Homo sapiens: one gene and its partner. The protein of the gene in region 1 interacts with the protein of each later gene in a pairwise test. Each region holds a gene or a part of one and is shown on either strand. Other genes may lie near its edges.

The links. The genes of interacting proteins can lie anywhere in the genome.
Region 2: the proteins of ITIH5 (region 1) and HMMR interact in a two-hybrid assay, tested with the Homo sapiens proteins (one large-scale study listed by BioGRID and IntAct).

Annotation. Positions count from the first base shown.
Region 1 is NC_000010.11:7,562,467-7,565,966, reverse strand, and holds part of ITIH5 (inter-alpha-trypsin inhibitor heavy chain H5 isoform 1 precursor), read left to right. Parts: intron 1-2,582; coding exon 2,583-2,884; 3' UTR 2,885-3,500. UniProt on the Homo sapiens protein: May act as a tumor suppressor.
Region 2 is NC_000005.10:163,467,132-163,470,631, reverse strand, and holds part of HMMR (hyaluronan mediated motility receptor), read right to left. Parts: intron 2,932-3,500; coding exon 2,884-2,931; intron 992-2,883; coding exon 803-991; intron 1-802. UniProt on the Homo sapiens protein: Receptor for hyaluronic acid (HA). Involved in cell motility. When hyaluronan binds to HMMR, the phosphorylation of a number of proteins, including PTK2/FAK1 occurs.

The DNA.
Region 1 (3,500 bases):
TGATATTGCCAACACCTTTCGTTTGATTGAGAAATTCAATAGGAATGTGGTTTTCATTATATATACAGTCCGCATATGTATGTATGTATGTGTGTGTGTACATATATATAGTCTATACATATATACATATACATAATGTATTATATACTATACATATATATGTATATATGTATTATATATAGTCTGTATGTATGCATATGTGTACATGCAGACTGCATATGTGTATATAGTCTCTCTATATAAATACATAATATATATTATATATGCAGTCTGTATATGTATGTGTATATGGTCTGTATATGTATGTGTGTGTATATATATACAGTCTATACATATATACATATACATAATGTATTATATATTATAAATATACATGTATATATGTATTATATATACCGTCTGTATGTATATATGTATACACAGACTGATAAGTATGTATATATACAGTCTATATATGCACACATATACATAATATATAATCAGTCTGTATATGTACATATGTATGTCTGTGTGTATATATACACAGTCTATGTGTATATATGTATGTATACTGTCTATGTATGTGTGCATGATATGTGTGTATATATACATACATAGTCTGTGTATGTATATATATATGTATACCATCTTTGTATGTGTGATGTGTGTGTGTATATATATATACAGTCTGTATGTATGGTGTGTGTATATATGTACAGTCTGTGTATATGTGTATATGTATGTATACACTCTGTGTATATATGTATGTATGATGTGTGTGTATGTGTGTGTATATATATATATATAGCCTGTGTATGTATGTGTGTTTATATATACAGTCTGTATGTATGTATGGTGTGTGTATATATACACAGTCTGTATATGTATGTGTGTGTGTGTGTGTATATATATATATACAGTCTATGTGTGTATATATGTATATATATATACAGTCTATGTATGTATATATGTATATATGTAGGTATACAGTCTATATGTATGAACGTGTGTGTATATGTATATGTATGTATACAGTCTGTGTATGTATGGTGTGTGTATATATATATATATACACACACAGTCTGTATATGTATGTATGTGTGTGTGTATACATATACAGTCTGTGTATGTATGTATATATGTATGTATGTATACAGTCTATGGTGTGTGTGTGTATATATACACACAGTCTGTATATATGTGTGTGTGTACACATACACAGTCTGTGTATGTATGTACATATTATATATATTCACACCCACCGACACACACAGTCATGCCTTGCTTAATGACAGGGATACATTCTAATGGTCGTTAGGTGATTTGGTCATTACGTGACCATCTAGAATATCCTTACACAAACCTCTCTAGATAGTGTCGCATACTACCCACTCAGCTAGGCTATGTGGTGTCTCCTATTGCTCCCGGGCTGCAAACCTGTACAGCATGTGACTGCATGGACTACTGCAGGCAATTGCAACACGATGATAAGTATTTGTTCATCTAAACATATCTAGACATAGAAAAGGTACACTAAAAATATGCTATTATAATCTTATGGGACCACCATCATATTTTCAGTCCATCATTGATTAAAATGTCATGATGTGGTGCATGACTATATATGTAACATGAAAATTACATATGTAATATGAAAATTCGATTACTATATATGTAATATGAACATTAGATTACTACATATGTAATATGAAAATTAGATTCCTTCCTGGGCTTTGTGAGCTAGGAATGGGCTTTATAAACCAGTAGTTCTCTTTAGCCTTCTGGAAAAATGAATGAGGAATTAAAATGTAGTCACCTGAGGGTCCAGTTCCTTTGCTCTCAGCAAGAATACACAGACACGAGGCAGCCCTGCCCAGCGCCCAGCCTGAGCGACACCCCCACCGGGGGGGCACCCACGTGGCCGTGCCCAGCAGGCGGGCCATTCTACCCAGCTTTCTTCAACGTGTAATTTCATGTGGGCCCCTTGCCCAAAAATAAAGAGCAAGCCATTGTCAGGGTTCAGTTTAGTAGGCAGGATTTCCTGGCTCTTGAGCTGGCCGCGTTTCGTGGGGCCTGGCGGCCCAGCATGAGCTCCCCTTGCAGACACAGCTCTTTATTCCTGTGGCCTGAGCAGTGCTGCCATCTGACCAGGAGAGTCCTGAGGACGAGGGTCAGAGAGGATCTGAGCTGACTGCTTTCCACCCCCACCCGGCACAGACCTGAGACGGATAGAAAGGAGGCGGGCCTGTGACTGGGAAGAGGACAGAGAGAAGATGGAACACTACTTCCCTCTTCATATGCCCCGTCCTGTCCTCTGGACTCAGTAGGAGACCGTGGTTATCACTATGTGTAGGTTACACAACTTTCTAGTGTTAGCAGCTGGGAAGCTTCCAGCAGTCATGGGTAAATCCCACAATGTGGATAAATCCTCAGCTCTCTCCACCCTGCCCCCCAGAGCACATGTTCTTCCATGTCACTGGGAGAGTCCAGTCTCGGGCTGTGGCCAGTTGTAAGCCTTTCTGCCACTGATAGCTCTGAAGTTGGAGTTCAGCACGAGGTTTCTGCATTTGACTGAGACCCGATGCTTTTCCTTGTCCTCCCAGGTCAGTTCCTGAATCAGGATGCCAGACTCACAGAAGACCCTGCAGGGCCCAGCCAGAACCTCACTCACCCTCTGCTCCTTCAGGTGGGAGAGGGGCCTGAGGCCGTCCTAACAGTGAAAGGCCACCAAGTCCCAGTGGTCTGGAAGCAAAGGAAGATTTACAACGGGGAAGAGCAGATAGACTGCTGGTTTGCCAGGAACAATGCCGCCAAACTGATTGACGGGGAGTACAAGGATTACCTGGCATCCCATCCATTTGACACAGGGATGACACTTGGCCGGGGAATGTCCAGGGAGCTCTGAAGCTGGCAGCCTTAAAGATGCAAGTGCATGAAGGACAGTGATGTGGGGAGGCCGTGGGGCAGCTCTTTTCATGGCTTGTACACGCCTCAGCTCCTGGCAATTAGCTGGACTCCATGACCCACCCCTGGTGCAGCATAGATCCGACGTCTGTCTGGGCGAAGGGTAGGGGTGGGTAGGGGCGGGAAGCCTGAGTGCAAATGTCATTTCCCTCTACTGCCTCTTCCTGCCTCTCCCCACCCTGCCCACATCCACAGAGGGGAGAGAAGGGTCATAGCTAAATGCAACAAAGTCTGTATCTTGTCCCAACCTGCTTTTCTGTTCTGTTAGCATATCATAAAGTAAGCCTTTCTGGTGAAGGAAGGTTGCTATGAAACTTTTTTTCTTGGTGGAAATGGACAAGTTTAGGCACTCTGCTTTTTGCCTTACACTAATGCTTAGAAAGCTGTCTTTTCAGTGGTGTTGCAGCCCCCAGATGTGTGGCCAACCTCTGCTGCAAAGGAATCTCTTGCTGAGTCCAGGCCACCAATCAGGCAAATAGCCCATACATTTGATCGTTGTAAACCATGAAGTCTTTTCTTGCAAGACGTTTTTCTTCTGCTGTGGTATCTTGCCCTTA
Region 2 (3,500 bases), on another chromosome or scaffold:
CTCTGTCACCCAGGCTGGAGTGCCGTGTTGCTCACTGCAACTTCCACCTCCCGAGTTCAAGCTATTCTCATGCCTCAGCCTCCCGAGTTCAAGCTATTCTCATGCCTCAGCCTCCTGAGTAGCTGGAATTACGGGTGTACGCCACCATACCTGACTAATTTTTGTATTTTTAGTAAAGATGGGGTTTCGCCATGTTAGGCTAGGCTAGTCTCAAAATCCTGACCTCAAGTGATCCATCCGTCTCAGCTTCCCAAAGCGCTGGAATTACAGGTGTGAGCCACTGTGGCTGGCCTGTTGGTTCATTTTTGAAAGGTTGTTTGGGTGGTCACTTACCTCTATATGCTGGAAAGTCCATTGCAAGACTCTAAAGCAAGTCCCTGAGAAAGGATTTCTTGAAACATGTTTGCTTAACAAAATGAATCTGAATCGCCTGGTGTATGTTGTTTTGTTTTGTTTTGTTTTTTGAGATGGAGTCGCACTCTCTTGCCTAGGCTGAAGTGCAATGGCGCCATGTCAGCTCACTGCAACCTCCACCTCCTGGGTTCAAGTGATTCTTCTGCCTCAGCCTCCCGAGTAGCTGAGATTACAGGCGCCCGCCAATAGGCCTAGCTAATTTTTGTATTTTTAGTAGAGACAGGGTTTCTCCATGTTGGTCAGGCTGGTCTCGAACTCCCGACCTCAGGTGATCCGCCTGCCTTGGCCTCCCAAAATGCTGGGAACACAGGCGTGAGCCACCGTGCCCGGCCCTAAAAAACGTGTTTATATTTATTCAATTGTAAATATTATCATGAGGCTCAGATACCTTAGATTTTAGTAGTTCATTAGTCCTGGTCAATTCAATAAGTTGTTTTTCCAGTGTAGCATTATTTGCAGAGAGAGATGTTTTTTCCCTTAGTGCAGCATTTAGCCTTGCTTCCATCTTTTCCAACTCAGTTTCCAGATCCTGGATCCGCCTGTCCTGGGCACCACGTTCCTGTAGAAGAACACGAATCTGGACAAAAACAAGGTGATAATAAATGATTCACTGATAGAATGCCAACATAAGGAGATGCTACCAATAATCACCCCTAAAGTTTCTGGAAAAATCTCTGATTTTGACATTATGCTTGTAGATATTCTAATGTTACTAGCTATTTGAATAATCATATTTACCTATGATACATCTTAAAAGTCTTAATGCATTTTAAGAACATAAGAACTTTAGTTGCCATAAGTTCCAAGTACAATTAAGCTATCTATTCACTTTTTTTTTTTTTTTTTTGAGATGGAGTCTTGCTCTGTGCTCTGTTGCCCAGGCTGGAGTGCAGTGGCACGATCTCGGCTCACTGCAAGCTCCGCCTCCTGGGTTCAAGCGATTCTCCTGCCTCAGCCTCCCGAATAGCTGGGACTACCAGCACGGGCCACCACACCCGGCTAATTTTTTGTATTTTTAATAGAGACGGGGTTTCACCATATTAGCCAGGATGGTCTCGATCTCCTGACCTCGTGATCCACCCGCCTCAGCCTCCCAAAGTGCTAGGATTACAGGTGTAAGCCACCACACCCGGCCGCTATTTATTCACTTTTAAGGTATTTCCACCTATAATAGTTATTTTCTCTAGCTTCAATTACACAAATTCAAATTAGCTTAAAATGCTAAATGTTTTTTATTTCAAGAAGGCAGAGCTGGGCTTCTGAGGAGAATGTACTAGGCATTGGCAAGCCATCATTCTTGCTGCTATTACCAGATTAAAAAAACAAAAAACAAAAAAAAACCCAAACCAATATTTGTCAACAGAAAATGTGGAAGCCAAAAGACAATGAAATGATATTTTTAATATAATGGGGGGGAACCTGCCACCCTAAAATTCTATACCCAATGAAGTCACTGGTGTAAATTATTAGTTCTAATCCTGGCTCTACCACTCACTTACCAGCTATCTCACTGAGACTCAGTGATTATTCCTGTAAGTATCAACCCCTACATGTACCCTCAGTAAAATGATAGCTAACATTATTAGAATACATAAAAAAGAATCAGAGCAACTGAGCAGACATTTACAGTTACTCTGACATACTCTTGGTTGAAAGCCAACATTCGACTGTAATCAAATGAAAGATTTTAATATATTGAAAGAATATATCCATGAGGAAAAGAGTTGGTCAGCAATGGAAACAGAAAAAAAAGACTGCAGAGAAGCAAAGTTCACAGTGAGCTGCTTAGCATTGCTAGGAAAGTAAATGGGTTCTTTAGGTTAGTACTGTTCAATAGAAATTTCTGTCATGGTGGAAATGCCCTGTCCAGTATGGTAGCTGCCAATCACATGTGGCTACTGAGCACTTGAAATGTGATTATTGCAACTGAGGAATTGAGTTCTTATTTAATTTAGATCATCACATGTGGTGAGTAGCTACCATATCAAACAGCACAGCTCTATGTTATTTCACCCATGAGGAAGGCCTATACCTATTGTGCAGAGCAATGCATCGAGTTAGCCTAACTTCATCACAGTCTAACCAGCTAGGATTGCATGCTCACTAAGAAATCCTCTAGCTATGTTGTGTTAACATAAGTTAGCATACAGGAAGACTGTGAACGATGGATAGATATAAATATTTGATCCACATATATAATTGTAATCAACTGACATAATGATTTTTCAGTTATCAGTTTTTCATTAAGTGGGCTATCTTTAATCTCGGCGTTGCCAGCATACCACATTAACATAGCCCGGATAGATCTGTGAAATACTGTAAGAACTGTTTTCCTGTAGGCACTGTTCTGGATGGCATGTTTGCCTCACTGCAGGACTCCTCACACTGCAACAGAATCCTTATCTCTTAAATCTGTGTAACTCTCTTTCTATCATGTGTACTTTTCACTAAGTTTAAAGCACTGCTTACCTCTTTCTCTAATATCTTCAAATCTTTATCATTCTTTTGAGATTCCTTCTGTTTAAAAGCCAAAAAAACTTATAAGCAAATTTAGATGTCACAGATATGACAGCCAAATTTGTTTTTCAGTTATCAGAAAAGATGAAGGGATCCAATCAGTTAGTTTCTATTTTAAACATTACACTGTTAAACATTGTGTAGGCCACTCATCTGATAAATAAAATATTCTAAAAATCTCAAGACATTTTAGGTTTAGAAATTTTCAACCCAATAAATCAGGATTTTCCTAATCAGCCCAGTGAAAAGAACAGGTGGAACTTTATGAATAAAGCTACTGACTGCCTCCCTCTAATGTTAAATAGCAACACATCTTGAATATTTAATTATGCTATCTCAGAAAGAATCTTACAAAGAGAAATCGACTTAAACTTTGATACCCGAAGAGGAAAATATACAGATGCAAAGAAATAAAAACTGAAACAGCATAAGCTCTGATTCTAATTTTCTCATTGGCTTTATTCTAAATAAGACATATAATTTTCACACTATATCTTTTTATATCCAACAGACTTTCTGACACAATGGCTAGAAAAAGAATATCTTTTCCATCTAAAAATGGAAGAAAG